Homo sapiens: one gene and its partners. The protein of the gene in region 2 purifies or fractionates together with the protein of the main gene of each other region. This does not show direct contact. Each region holds a gene or a part of one and is shown on either strand. Other genes may lie near its edges. The genes, in order: OR1M1, E2F8 and IFRD2.

The links.
Region 1: the proteins of E2F8 (region 2) and OR1M1 purify together in Homo sapiens (affinity purification with mass spectrometry; one large-scale study listed by BioGRID and IntAct). This does not show direct contact.
Region 3: the proteins of E2F8 (region 2) and IFRD2 purify together in Homo sapiens (affinity purification with mass spectrometry; one large-scale study listed by BioGRID and IntAct). This does not show direct contact.

Annotation. Positions count from the first base shown.
Region 1 is NC_000019.10:9,085,650-9,089,925, reverse strand, and holds the start of OR1M1 (olfactory receptor 1M1), read right to left. Parts: upstream 2,866-4,276; 5' UTR 2,769-2,865; intron 1-2,768. UniProt on the Homo sapiens protein: Odorant receptor.
Region 2 is NC_000011.10:19,227,401-19,231,045, reverse strand, and holds part of E2F8 (transcription factor E2F8), read left to right. Parts: intron 1-211; coding exon 212-415; intron 416-717; coding exon 718-805; intron 806-1,057; coding exon 1,058-1,592; intron 1,593-3,645. UniProt on the Homo sapiens protein: Atypical E2F transcription factor that participates in various processes such as angiogenesis and polyploidization of specialized cells.
Region 3 is NC_000003.12:50,289,495-50,293,633, forward strand, and holds the start of IFRD2 (interferon-related developmental regulator 2), read right to left. Parts: upstream 2,936-4,139; 5' UTR 2,781-2,935; coding exon 2,723-2,780; intron 1,186-2,722; coding exon 1,066-1,185; intron 979-1,065; coding exon 894-978; intron 801-893; coding exon 676-800; intron 593-675; coding exon 435-592; intron 269-434; coding exon 218-268; intron 135-217; coding exon 1-134. Other genes in the region: HYAL3 (hyaluronidase-3 isoform 1 precursor), read right to left, coding at 3,752-4,021, 4,138-4,139. UniProt on the Homo sapiens protein: Ribosome-binding protein that acts as an inhibitor of mRNA translation by promoting ribosome inactivation. Associates with the P- and E-sites of the ribosome and inserts a C-terminal helix into the mRNA exit channel to preclude translation.

The DNA of each region.
Region 1 (4,276 bases), on a different chromosome or scaffold from region 2:
TCTCTGTAATTCATGAAGCACGCATGGATTCATGAATTCACAGTTTAGTGAGGGAGATGAACTCCAGGCAGCATTTATCAGATTATGAGGAGCTTGGATTAATAGAGAATCACACCCCACACACAGCACCCCTGAGGATTGTAAGAGCACTCCGAAAACTGTTGAGGCAGCCAGGGATTTTTGGAAAATGTGTTGGCTTTAGGCAGGGCACAGTGGCTCACACCTGTAATCCCAGCACTTTGGGAGGCTGAGACAGGCGGATTGCCTGAGGTCAGGAGTTCGAGACCAGCCTGGCCGACATGGTGAAACCCCGTCTCTACTAAAAATACAAAAAATTATCCGGGCGTAGTGGTGGGCCCCTGTAATCCTGGCTACTTGGGAGGCTGAGGCAGGAGAATCGCTTGAACCCAGGAGGCGGAGGTTGCAGTGAGCTGAGATTGTGCCATTGCACTCCAGCCGGGGTGACAAGAGCGAAACTCTGTCTCAAAAAAAAAAAAAAAAAAATGTGGTAGAAATACACAATGGAAAACTATTCAGCCATAAAAATGAAGGAGATCTTGTCATTTACAGCAACATGGAAAGAATTGGAGCATATTATAAATGAAATAAGCCAGGAACAGAAAGTTAAACACTGCATGTTCTCACTCACATGTGAAAGCTAAAAGAAAAAAAATGATTTCATAGAAGTAAAAAGAACAGAGGATACTAGAGTCTGGGAAGGGTAGAGGGAGGGGGCAGATAGGAAGAGATTTGTTACAGCATACAGAACTACAGGCAAATTGGAAGAATAAGTTCTAGTGTTCTATATCCCTGTAGGATGAATACAGTTAACAATAATATGCTATATAGCTAAACAGCTAGAAGGAGGATATTGAGTGTTCCCAACACAGAGAAATGATAAATGTTTGTGATAATAGATGTGCTAATTACCCAGATCTGATCACTATACATTACATATATGGAAACATTACTATGTACCTCATAAATATATACAATTAAAACATTTTAAAAGGAGTCAGAGTATTTTTTTTTTTTTTGAGACAGAGTTTCGCTCTTGTTGCTCAGGCAGGAGTGCAATGGTGCAATCTCAGCTCACTGCAACCTCTGCCTCCCGGATATAAATGGTTCTCTGGCCTCAGCCTCCCGAGTAGCTGGGATTACAGGCACCCACCACCACACCTGGCTAATTTTTTTGTATGTTTACTAGAGATGGGGTTTCACCATGCTGGCCAGGCTGGTCTTGAACTCCTGACCACAGGTGATCCGCCCGCCTCGGCCTTCCAAAGTGCTGGGATTACAGGTGTGAGCCACCGTGCCTGGCCGAGTCAGAGTATTTTTCCATCTCAAGGAAGCCAGTGAATGCTCTGTGATTAAACTACTAATGGAATCAAGGAACTGATCTCAGACATCCTCCTGCCCTGACACCTAAGCTTTCACTGAATTACTCTGTCACTCCTCATTCTTCCACAGCTCTTGGGAAAAATTTAAGTATCAGGAACCCGAAGATTCATCCCTTAAGCTTCTTGATGAGCCTCTCTCCAAGGAAGCACCAGTCCTATCCTATCTGGACCTCTGCACTCTGTGTCTAAGATCTCTCAGCCTGGAATACTTGGGAATCTCCAAGGGCTTCCAAGACCCAACATGGGGAATAACACAAACTTCTGCCTACAGAAGTACTGAGGAGGAAGCCATCTGTTCCTTCAGGCACTCAAGTGGGCTTGGAAAAGAAAGTCCAGGCTGGGCGCAGTGGCTCATGCTTGTAATACCAGAACTTTGGGAGGCTGAGGCGGGTGGATCACCTGAGGTCAAGAGTTGGAGACCAGCGTGGCCATTATGGTGAAACCCCAGCTCCACTAAAAATACAAAAATTAGCTGGGTGTGGTGGCGGGCATCTGTAATTCCAGCTACTTGGGAGGCTGAGGCAGGAGAATCTCTTGAACCTGAGAGATGGAGGTTGCAGTGAGCCAAGATCATGCCACTGCACTGCAGCCTGGGTGACAGAGTAAGACTCCATTTCAAAAAAAAAGTCTAGTTACGAAGAAAAACAGTGCTACAAATAATCATGGTTTTTAGGTAAAGGACTGGTAGCATCACAACTAAACCAGGCTGAGCTAGTTTGGTAAGAAGAGCCATTGGATTCTGGGCTGACAAGTGGGTGCTGATTGACCAGACAGAATCTTCCAGTGTCGGCCGAGCACAGTGAATTCCAGTACTTTCGGAGGCTGAGGCGGGTGATCACCTGAGGTCAGGTGTTCGAGATCAGCCTGACCAACATGGTGAAACCTTGTCTCTACTAAAAATACAAAATTCACAAGGCATGGTGGTGTATGCCTGTAATCCCAGCTACTCGGGAGGCTGAGGTAGGAGAATTGCTCGAACCTGGGAGTCAGAGGTTGCAGTGAGCCAAGATCGTGCCATTGCACTCCAGCCTGGGCAACAAGAGCAAAACTCCATCTCGGTGGGGGAAAAATGTTCAAAAAATCAGCTGGGTGTGGTGGCACATGCCTGTAGTTCCAGCTACTCTAGAGGCTGAGGCAGGAGGATTGCTTAAGCCCAGGAGGTAGAAGCTGCAGTGAGCTGTGATTGTGCCACTGCACTCCAGCCTGAATAACAGAGCAAGGTTCTGTCTCTAAAATAAATAAATCAGTAAATCAATAAATAATAAAAAAGAATCTTCCAGTGTATCTGAGATCATTGAGCTTGGCTTCATTAATTTTACCAACATTCGTTCAGTCTCTCTCTCTCTCTCTCTCTCTCAGCTCACTCACTGGGCTATCTTTCCTCTTCTTGACACCATCACCCAGGCATGAGTTAAACTGGCTCAGTGTCCTCCCAGCAGGTACTAGATGATGAAGTTAGATGTTTGGGCCAGCAGATGCTACATAGAAATACTGGGAAGTTGTCCTCCTGGTCCAAAGAAGAAAAGCTAGGGTGGGGGATAAGTTGTAGGAACCGAGGGAATATTTACAATTTCTGGGCCAATAAGAAGTCAATTCCCCAAGCTCCTTGTTACACAAATTGTCCAATTTCATCTCTAGTCCCTGAATAGTTCTGTTTCCTATGGGGGCTGGGACGTGGCAGTAAGAAGCATTTTATGTCTTCATGAGGCAACTTAGGGGTAAGTTGCATGATTCCTAACTTTCTCTGCACCCTCTCTTCCAGGAACAAACTCTCCCTGTCTTCTAAACTCAGTCTTTCCAATGCCCAGGGCTTCTTATATCAGAAGGTTCCATTCTTATTGGAAGCCAATGTTCCTCATCACTTAAAGAATTAAGAAATGGCCGGGTGTGATGGCTCACGCCTGTAATCCCAGCACTTTGGGAGGCTGAGGCGGGTGGATCATGAGGTCAAGAGATTGAGACAATCCTGGCCAACATGGTGAAACACTGTCTCTACTAAAAATACAAAAATTAGTTGGCATGGTGGTGCACACCTGTAGTCCCAGCTACTCAGGAGGCTGAGGCAGAAGAATCGCTTGAACCCAGGAGGCAGAGGTTGTGGTGAGCCGAGATTGCACCATTGTACTCCAGCCTGGGCAACAAGAGCGAAACTCCATCTCAAAAAAAAAAAAAAAAAAAAAAAGAAAAGAACTAAGAAACACTCCAAACATTTTCCCACGTCCACCCAGTGATCTGTCACCAAGACCCAGGGCTGCCTGCTTTCATCACTCAACCTCAACAGAACAACTCTCTATAAAGGGATCATGGCTTTCATTCAGTTCTGCAAAAGGAGAAACTAGAGCCTACCCTAATGGATGTACATGGAGAGAGTGGTTGGCTGACTAAGTCTGCAGCCAGATTCTCACTGAGTATTGGGACCATGGTGGCATTACTGGGAATTTTCAGGAATTTGGTTTTATAAGGTCATGCCCAGATTATTGGGTTGTGTCTACTCAGTAAACACTCATGAAACTGATGGATACATGAAGGCTCAGTTTTTCAAAGCCTTTAGCTATGTAAAGAGCAAAATACTAGGTTGAGCCATATGCAATTGTCAATATTCTACCATTTTTGATCAACAAAACTGGCATTTTTTTTTTTGGTATGCCTCAGCTTCATATAATGAAATCCTGTGTGCCCAATCACTCAGCTTCCACACCTACCAAGTCAAGCCTCTGTTGAATCTGTGTCCTACCTACTTTGACCTCTCTCTTCCCAGAGATAATTTCAGAGCAAATTCCATATGTATAATGATTTTGGTATGTCTTCAAAAAACAAAAAGCTCTTTTTGAAAGCATAACCACAATACCATTATTATTATTATTATTTTGAGATGG
Region 2 (3,645 bases):
AGTTTCAGAAATGCTAATGTAGGAAATATTGTGTCTCAGAATCCATTTAATAAGATAAACAAGGCTTTCTCTGTAAAGCCCTTAGAACAGTGACAGGCACATGGTCGGTGCTCTGTAACTTGCCACTTTTATTCCTAAAATTGTTTTATTTCATATCCCAAAAGCCAACTGAGCCATCCAGGTTTTAATACACAGACGTTTTCTGTTTCAGGCTCCAGCCCAGTCATTCATTTTACTCCCTCTGATTTGGAGGTGAGACGGTCTTCAAAAGAGAACTGTGCCAAAAACCTCTTTTCCACACGTGGGAAACCAAACTTTACTCGACACCCATCTCTTATCAAATTGGTAAAGAGTATAGAAAGTGATCGGAGAAAGATAAATTCTGCGCCCAGTAGCCCTATCAAGACCAACAAAGGTATGTTTTCAGGAATGTCAGGGATCTGCTAGGAAGAATTCCCTTTTATCTCATTTTTTCAGCTTACTTGATCCTTGCAATAGTTGTCAGAGAATTATTTCAATATCTATATACCCAAACCCTCTTGAAGCCTAACTAATGTATAAATTTAAAAAGTCATTTGTGGGGTTTATTGTTTAATCGCTATGCAACTTTGAGGGGAGGTGCACACTTTCTGTTCCTCTGACTTCAGTGAGGTTTCATCTGTGTGAACATTTGTTCTTTAGCTTTGACCGGTGCTCTCTTCCTTTCTATTTTACCAGCTGAGAGTTCTCAGAATTCTGCACCCTTCCCAAGTAAAATGGCTCAGCTCGCAGCTATTTGTAAAATGCAGTTAGAAGAGCAATCAAGGTAGGTTGGCAATCCTCTTTAATAACAGGATGAATTACTTTTACATTACATTGTTAGGATTACTTATTTTATGTGAGAAGAAGCCCTAGCCTTGAACTGGAGAGCTAATCTTTTCTGTATCTCATACTCACTCATTACAGAAATTATCTGCATGTTCCATAAAAGCGTGGCTTCAATATGAGGCTTAAAGCGGTAGAACAGTTCAGAAAAAATGTATATCCATCATGTCGTGTATTAAATCTTGTCTTTCAGTGAATCCAGACAGAAAGTGAAAGTACAGCTGGCAAGATCTGGACCCTGCAAACCAGTAGCCCCTCTGGACCCCCCAGTGAATGCTGAGATGGAGCTGACAGCACCGTCCCTCATCCAGCCCCTGGGAATGGTTCCCCTGATCCCCAGCCCCTTGTCATCAGCAGTGCCCCTGATCCTACCTCAGGCCCCTTCAGGCCCATCCTATGCCATCTACCTGCAGCCCACTCAAGCCCACCAAAGTGTGACGCCACCCCAAGGCCTGAGCCCAACGGTGTGCACCACCCACTCTTCTAAAGCTACTGGCTCAAAAGACTCCACAGATGCCACCACTGAGAAGGCAGCCAATGATACCTCAAAGGCCAGTGCCTCTACCAGGCCTGGAAGCTTGCTGCCAGCACCAGAGAGGCAAGGGGCAAAGAGCCGAACCAGGGAGCCAGCTGGAGAAAGAGGCTCAAAGAGGGCAAGCATGCTCGAGGACAGTGGTTCCAAAAAGAAATTTAAAGAGGACCTAAAAGGACTTGAAAATGTCTCCGCAGTAAGTACAGCCTTGAACTGCACAAAGCTTTAGGAATTCCCTAGTCTATTACAGGAAGATTGGTGGCTTGTGAAATTTACCGAAGAGCATTCTCTCAGAAGACAAGGAACTGTTCCTTAGCATCCCATAATCCAAGTGAGGCCCTCAACAGCTAATCCCCTGGCTGGGATGAAGGCAGGGACATTTTTAACCTTTGGAGGAAGGGATTATTTGCTGTCTTTTTAAAGTACCATGGGTGGTTGTCCTTAAGTCCATTTCTCCATCACACACTGGAATGCAAACAGCTGTCATGAAAGTCTTAAATAATTTACAAGCAGACGTAACCCCAAATGAACGTGTGGATGCATAGGGTTCCTGTAACTCCTGCTTTCTGAGTCATTACCTAATGTTTGTTTGTTGTCATGTAACTGGCATCTGTTGCCTAGAAGATAAATTGCTCCCCGTTTTTACTTTCTACCTAAAATTTAAATCAAAATTTCTATTTCATGTAAATAGAAAAATCAAACTGATCTTGGCAAATTGTAGATATAGTTCATGTATTGGTTTCTAGAGATTTTGACATGCTAGACAAATTTTTTTCCTAAGTGGAGATTAGTTCCGGAGGGAATTAATATTTATTGGATGCCTACCCACATATAGCAGACATAATAGATATTAGTCACTTTTACATACAGTATCTCATTTTCCTCCCTTAGGACAATTATATATGAGAGACATTACTGTATCATCCGATAAATACCACTAAATGTGCAAGTAAAAGTTAATCTCTCATTTTGCCCCTGCTCTTAATACAAGCTATTTTACTTCTCTCTGTCTTATTTTTCCGCATCGGTAAAGAATTTATTCCACCAGTTTTTCCTCATCACCTACTGGATATAAAGCACTGTGCTCTGGATCAAATCTAACCCAGCACCTGCCTTTGGTGGCAATTGCTTTTGGGTACTTGCCTGTGGGCATATGATAGTTTTTGTGGGGTTAAGTGAATTTATTCCATGATGATACACATAAAAGGGTTTGATCCTTTTAAGACGTGTTATAAGCTGAAAGGTATTATCTGTTACGTTGTTATTAAAGAGGAAGCTTAGAGTTTGTCAAATCTTCCCTGAGGATGGCCTCATGGTAACCATTCAAAACATCTATTATCTTACATAGTATCCTTTTGTATTTAATGTATATGCCAAGTGGGAAATCATAAGGTTTCAATATTCTGGAAGGTCCATAACTTCTTTTGGCCAATGGGTATGATTTAATAATGGTCTCCTGTTGCTTACATAGTTATTCAGGATTAGGATTTTCAGTGGATAGATTTTCCATATACTCCTGCTTCTTTTTTATATCTCTGCAACTCTAACCATTTCTTTTTTCTTTTGAGACAGGGTCTTACTCTGTCACCCAGAATGGAGTGCAGTGGCATGATTTTAGCTCACTGCAGCCTCGACCTCCAAGGCTTAAGTGATCCTCCCACCTCAGTCTCCCAAGTAACTTAGACTACAGGTGTGCTGCCATGCCCGGCTAATTTTTTATTTTTTGTGGAGACGGGGTTTCACCATGTTGCTCAGCCTGGTCTCGAACTCCTGAGCTCAAGCAGTCTGCCTGCCTTGGCTTCCCAAAGTGCTGAGATCACAGGCATTTGCCGTCATGCCCAGCCCACTTTAACCATTTCGTTTTAGTATGGCCTGAGCAAAACAAAGACAATGAGAGAGTCATGTGTTAATTCATTCAACAAATTTTTACTGAGAATTTATACTTCTAGGGGTGGAAAGAAGATAAGTATGCAAGTAAACACAAACATATCAGGTAGTGAATGATAGGAATGAAGATGACATGATAGGAGGAAGGGGTGGAAGGGCTACTGTAGGCTAGAAGAGTTCAAGTTCAAATATGTCAGATTCATTCGGCAATTTAATAGTTCTAATTATTTTATAAAAAAGGGAATTGGCATAGGTTAAAAGATTCTATAATGAATATAGTTTGTTGGAAATTTAAAAATTATTATTCTATTATTGTGGGTTTTACTGAAGACTTGAAAGAGTTAAACCAGCAGTCAGAATAA
Region 3 (4,139 bases), on a different chromosome or scaffold from region 2:
AATGCCCAGGCCTGCAGGGCAGCAGAGAGCAGGCCGTGCAGGCTGGCAGGAACCACAGGACTTGTGGAGCTGCCCCCCAAGCCATAGAACCGGCTGAAAACACTTTCTAAGCAGGCAAGGCAAGAGACCAGGTCCTAGGAGCACAGAGAGGCAGGGGAGCTCAGAGGCAGAGTTACAGCCCTAGATGCTCTACCACCTGTGCCCAAAGACCCCTCACCTGGATGTCAGCGGCAGCCACGTAGCAGCCCAGGCCAAGGGCAGAAGCACACTGTTGGGAGAAGGGCAATGCAATGCCACGGTCAGCGGGTGAACCTGGGTTCCCAGCCCTGGAGCTCACTCCCCTCAGAGTAAAGGAGGCTGAAGATAGGGGGAACCCACCACTCTGCTGAGGGATAAGGTGCAGGAAGGGTTTCATGGGGCACAGGCACACTCACGTGGAGCCGGGCAGCAGGGCTAGCTGTGCTGTCACTGAGCACAGAGACCAGCAGAGGCTGCAGGCTGTGAAACAGCTCCTCACCCTTAGGTCCAGGGCCCAGCTGCACGCAGAGCAGGCCTAGCACAGCAGCAGCCAGGGCTTGTTCCTCGCCCTTCCCTGTGGGATGCTTTCCAGTCAGCCCATGCAGCAAGGGCCAGTGTCTGCCCAGTTTAAGTCTCCCACACACCCCCAGGTCCAACCTTTCTTGAGGCACTTTTCCAGGGCATCGGCTAGCGTGAGGCGGCGCTCCAGCAAGAAGTCGGGGAGTAGGCGGGACGCTAGGGCCAGGCGCAGGCTCTCAAGAGCACCCTGCCGGGTCTTGGCACTGGGGGAGGTCGAGAAGGGGGGTCATATGGGCCAGCCCTCCCTTGATCACACTTGGAGCTGGGTGTAGGAGTTGGCTGGCAGCCAGGGGTACCTCTTGTCTGTGAGACAGTCCACATACTCCTTCAGCTTTTCCTCAAGGTCTTCCTGCTGGCCCTGCTCATCCACGACATCCCCCCCTGCAAGGCCACCTGGTCAGCACCGCTTCTTGTCCTCAGCCCATGGAGCCCTCACCAAGCCCCTGTCAAACTTCCACCCGCTCTCACCAAGGCTGTCCTCTGCAGTGGTGCTGAGAAGGCTGGGGCATTCACTGGCGGTGCTGCGGGCCTCACTGGCTGCCTCATCGTCACTGGAACCCGAGTCAGCTTGGGCACTGCTCCGGGCACCTGGAGAAGGTGGAATAGGACACTCAACTTGCCTCTACTGATGAGGGATGGCTGGGGGTACCTCACTCGACCTCATAATCCCAAAAGATAGAATGGTGTCCCTCTCAGAGATGAAAAACCAAAGCCAAGGGTCAGTTCAGTAGGGCTGGTGCACTCCTGTGTGTGGGGTCTGTCCAGGGCCAAGGGCTGACATTGGCAAGGTTGGCTGCTGTGGCAGAGTTTTGGACAGGGTGTGATCACCAGGCTGGCCCTACTTCTAAGAACTACTCACACCCCTCATCTGCAGGACAAAGTCCAGCCTGCGCACTGGCCTCTGCTCCCCGCCACCTTTTTTTTTTTTTTTTTTTTTTGAGACAGAGTTTTGCTCTTGTTGCCCAGGCTGGAGTGCAATGACGCCATCTCGGCTCACTGCGACCTCTGCCTCCCGGGTTCCAGTGATTCTCCTGCCTCAGCCTCCCGAGTAGCTGGGATTACAGGCATACGACACCACACCCAGCTAATTTTGTATTTTTAGTAGATAGGGTTTCTCCATGTTGGTCAGGCTGGTCTCGAACTCCTGGCCTCAGGTGATCTGCCTGCCTTGGCCTCCCAAAGTGCTGGGATTACAGGTGTGAGCCACCACGCCCAGCCTGCTCCCATTTTATCTTACTATTCTACCTGCCGGAGCAGCCCAGCCTTCCCTCATTCACTCCACTGCGCTGGGGTCCCTCCAGCTGCCAGGTCTTTGTACAACTTGCTCTCTTCTCCATCCTCTCAGGACTCACCCAGAAGCACTTCCCCCCAGGCCTCCCTGAGTCCTAAGTCTGGGGCTGACACCACTCAGTGAACATGTTCCACACCCTATTAGATGTCCCCCACCCAAAACCCACCATGGTGGTGACCAGTTTAAAGTTGTGCCTAGGTATTTTCCTCCTTCCTGTGCCCGGCCCTCCTCCCTTCCCCCTCAAGAATAAAAATAAATAAATTTGTGCGTGGTAGGCACCCCATCCCAGCAGAGTAAACATATGTGTTTAACGCATTAAGATAGGCTCCTGGTCTAAGCTGATAAGCGAGTCCCAAGACTGCCTCAGGCTCCAGGATACTCAGCTACCTTGTGGAGTCAGGCCTGCCAAGCTGCCAAGGCCCTAACCAGGTAGCTTCCCAACAGAGCCCCCTCCCTCTCTTCACCGGAGCAGGCCAGGACTCCCGCCAACTTCCTTGACCAGTCCAGGAAAGGATCAGGGTTTGGCAAGAGGACTGGCTTCCTGCCCTGTCCGGTGAGTTTGTCCACCCAGCAGGCAACTGAGGCCCGGAGGGGCTGGCCGGGTCACCGCTGGGAGCGCGGACTCCCAACAGGCAGTGGGCAGCGAGCTCAAGTTGGGCACGCACGTGGCCAATGACTGCTGGGGCACGTGCCAGCCTCGGTAGAGTTATGGGAAGCTGCGTGGGGCTGGCCGAGGGGGTTCCCCACCCAGGGCCCTCGAGAACAACCAAGGGGATCCAGCAGGACCCCCGCCCGCCGCTCATACAGCTGTCCCGCGCCCCCCACCCCACTCACCTCCTCCACGGCGCTGACCACCCTTCCGGAGCGTGTTGCCCTTACGGGCGCGAGGCATGCCGGGAACCGGGCGCGGGGGGCGCGGGGTCAGGGACCCGGTGGGTGTGGGCTCCAGGCCAACGAGACGCCGGCCGGTGCGCTGCGCTGAGACTTGGCCAGACGACGGGAGCCACACGCCACGCGCGCCACCATCTTCGCGAGGCGCCCCGCCCTGCCAAACAGGTCGCCGGGAAGGCGAGTTCCAGGCCATCCGATTCAGGCCCACATCCACGAGGCTAAAACTACTAATCCCAGAGGCCTGAGCGCGCAGGCGACGGCGGCTAGCTGCGCGTAGAGCACCATGGGAATGGTAGTCCACGCCTGGGGCCCACCAGCCGACGACGCGCTGGCTGAACTATGCACCCACAATGCCCTGCGCGCGCCCCAGCCCCGCGTCGGGAACAAGTGCACGGTGGTTAACTCCGAAGCGTCCCTCAGTGGAGCACCAAGGCAGGACTGGCTTCTCAGGGCACTTGGCAGCGGGACACTCCAGACGAGACCTACCCCTGCCTGGGTCTGGGGACCATGGGAAGGGCTTAGAGCTTGGGATAACAGGAGCAACAGCCAAACCTCAGGCAGTGGAAAAAAGTGACTTTATGATGAAAGAGTGCAGACAACAGCTTAGCACTTTACCGACCTTCGCCAAGATTTTTTGGGGCCCATCTGCCCGTGCACGGCCCATCTGTGACCTCTCCATGGGCTTAGTGAGGTGTAGGCACAAAGCCCTAGGCTGGCAGCCCTAACTAGCTGGAACCTGACTCTCCCTGGAACTGCTTCCTTGCCATGGAGGACTCACATGATCTCAGAGGGCCTCTGGTTTTATAAGCGTTTTTTCTGGCCCCTTCTACCCCTCAGGGATTCCAAGGGAAGCGGGGTGTGTGCTTGGGAGGGTTGACTGTAAACTGAATAGAGCAAGAGTGGGACAGAGTAGTTCCAGGACTGGAAAAGTGGCAGCAGGGAAAAGAAGAGGCAGTGGCAGGGGCCCTGGCTTTATACTGCTTCTTTAGGCCCAGGCCTGGGCTCCTGGCAGGTGGGGCCAGCCCAGCCCCAGTAACAGTGGCAGCTGAAGGACTTCCAATCTCCAAGGCTGCCGTCTGGCCACAGGTGTAGAAAGGCTTCCATCTGTCCTGGATCTCGCCGGGCACAGCGCCCGTGGCCATGGCACCGCTGGTGACTGCAGGCCATCGCTGCCCTGGTCACATTGATCACATAGGGGCCCAAGGTGTCCACCAGGTAGTCATGGAGATGCCAGCACTCCTCCTGAGGAGAAGGGAAGATATGTGTCAATATGCCTGCTCTATAATCTTGACATGGCCGTCCCCCACCCTGGGACCCCAGCATGTGCTACATGGCAGGCTCAAAGGGGCAATGATCACCT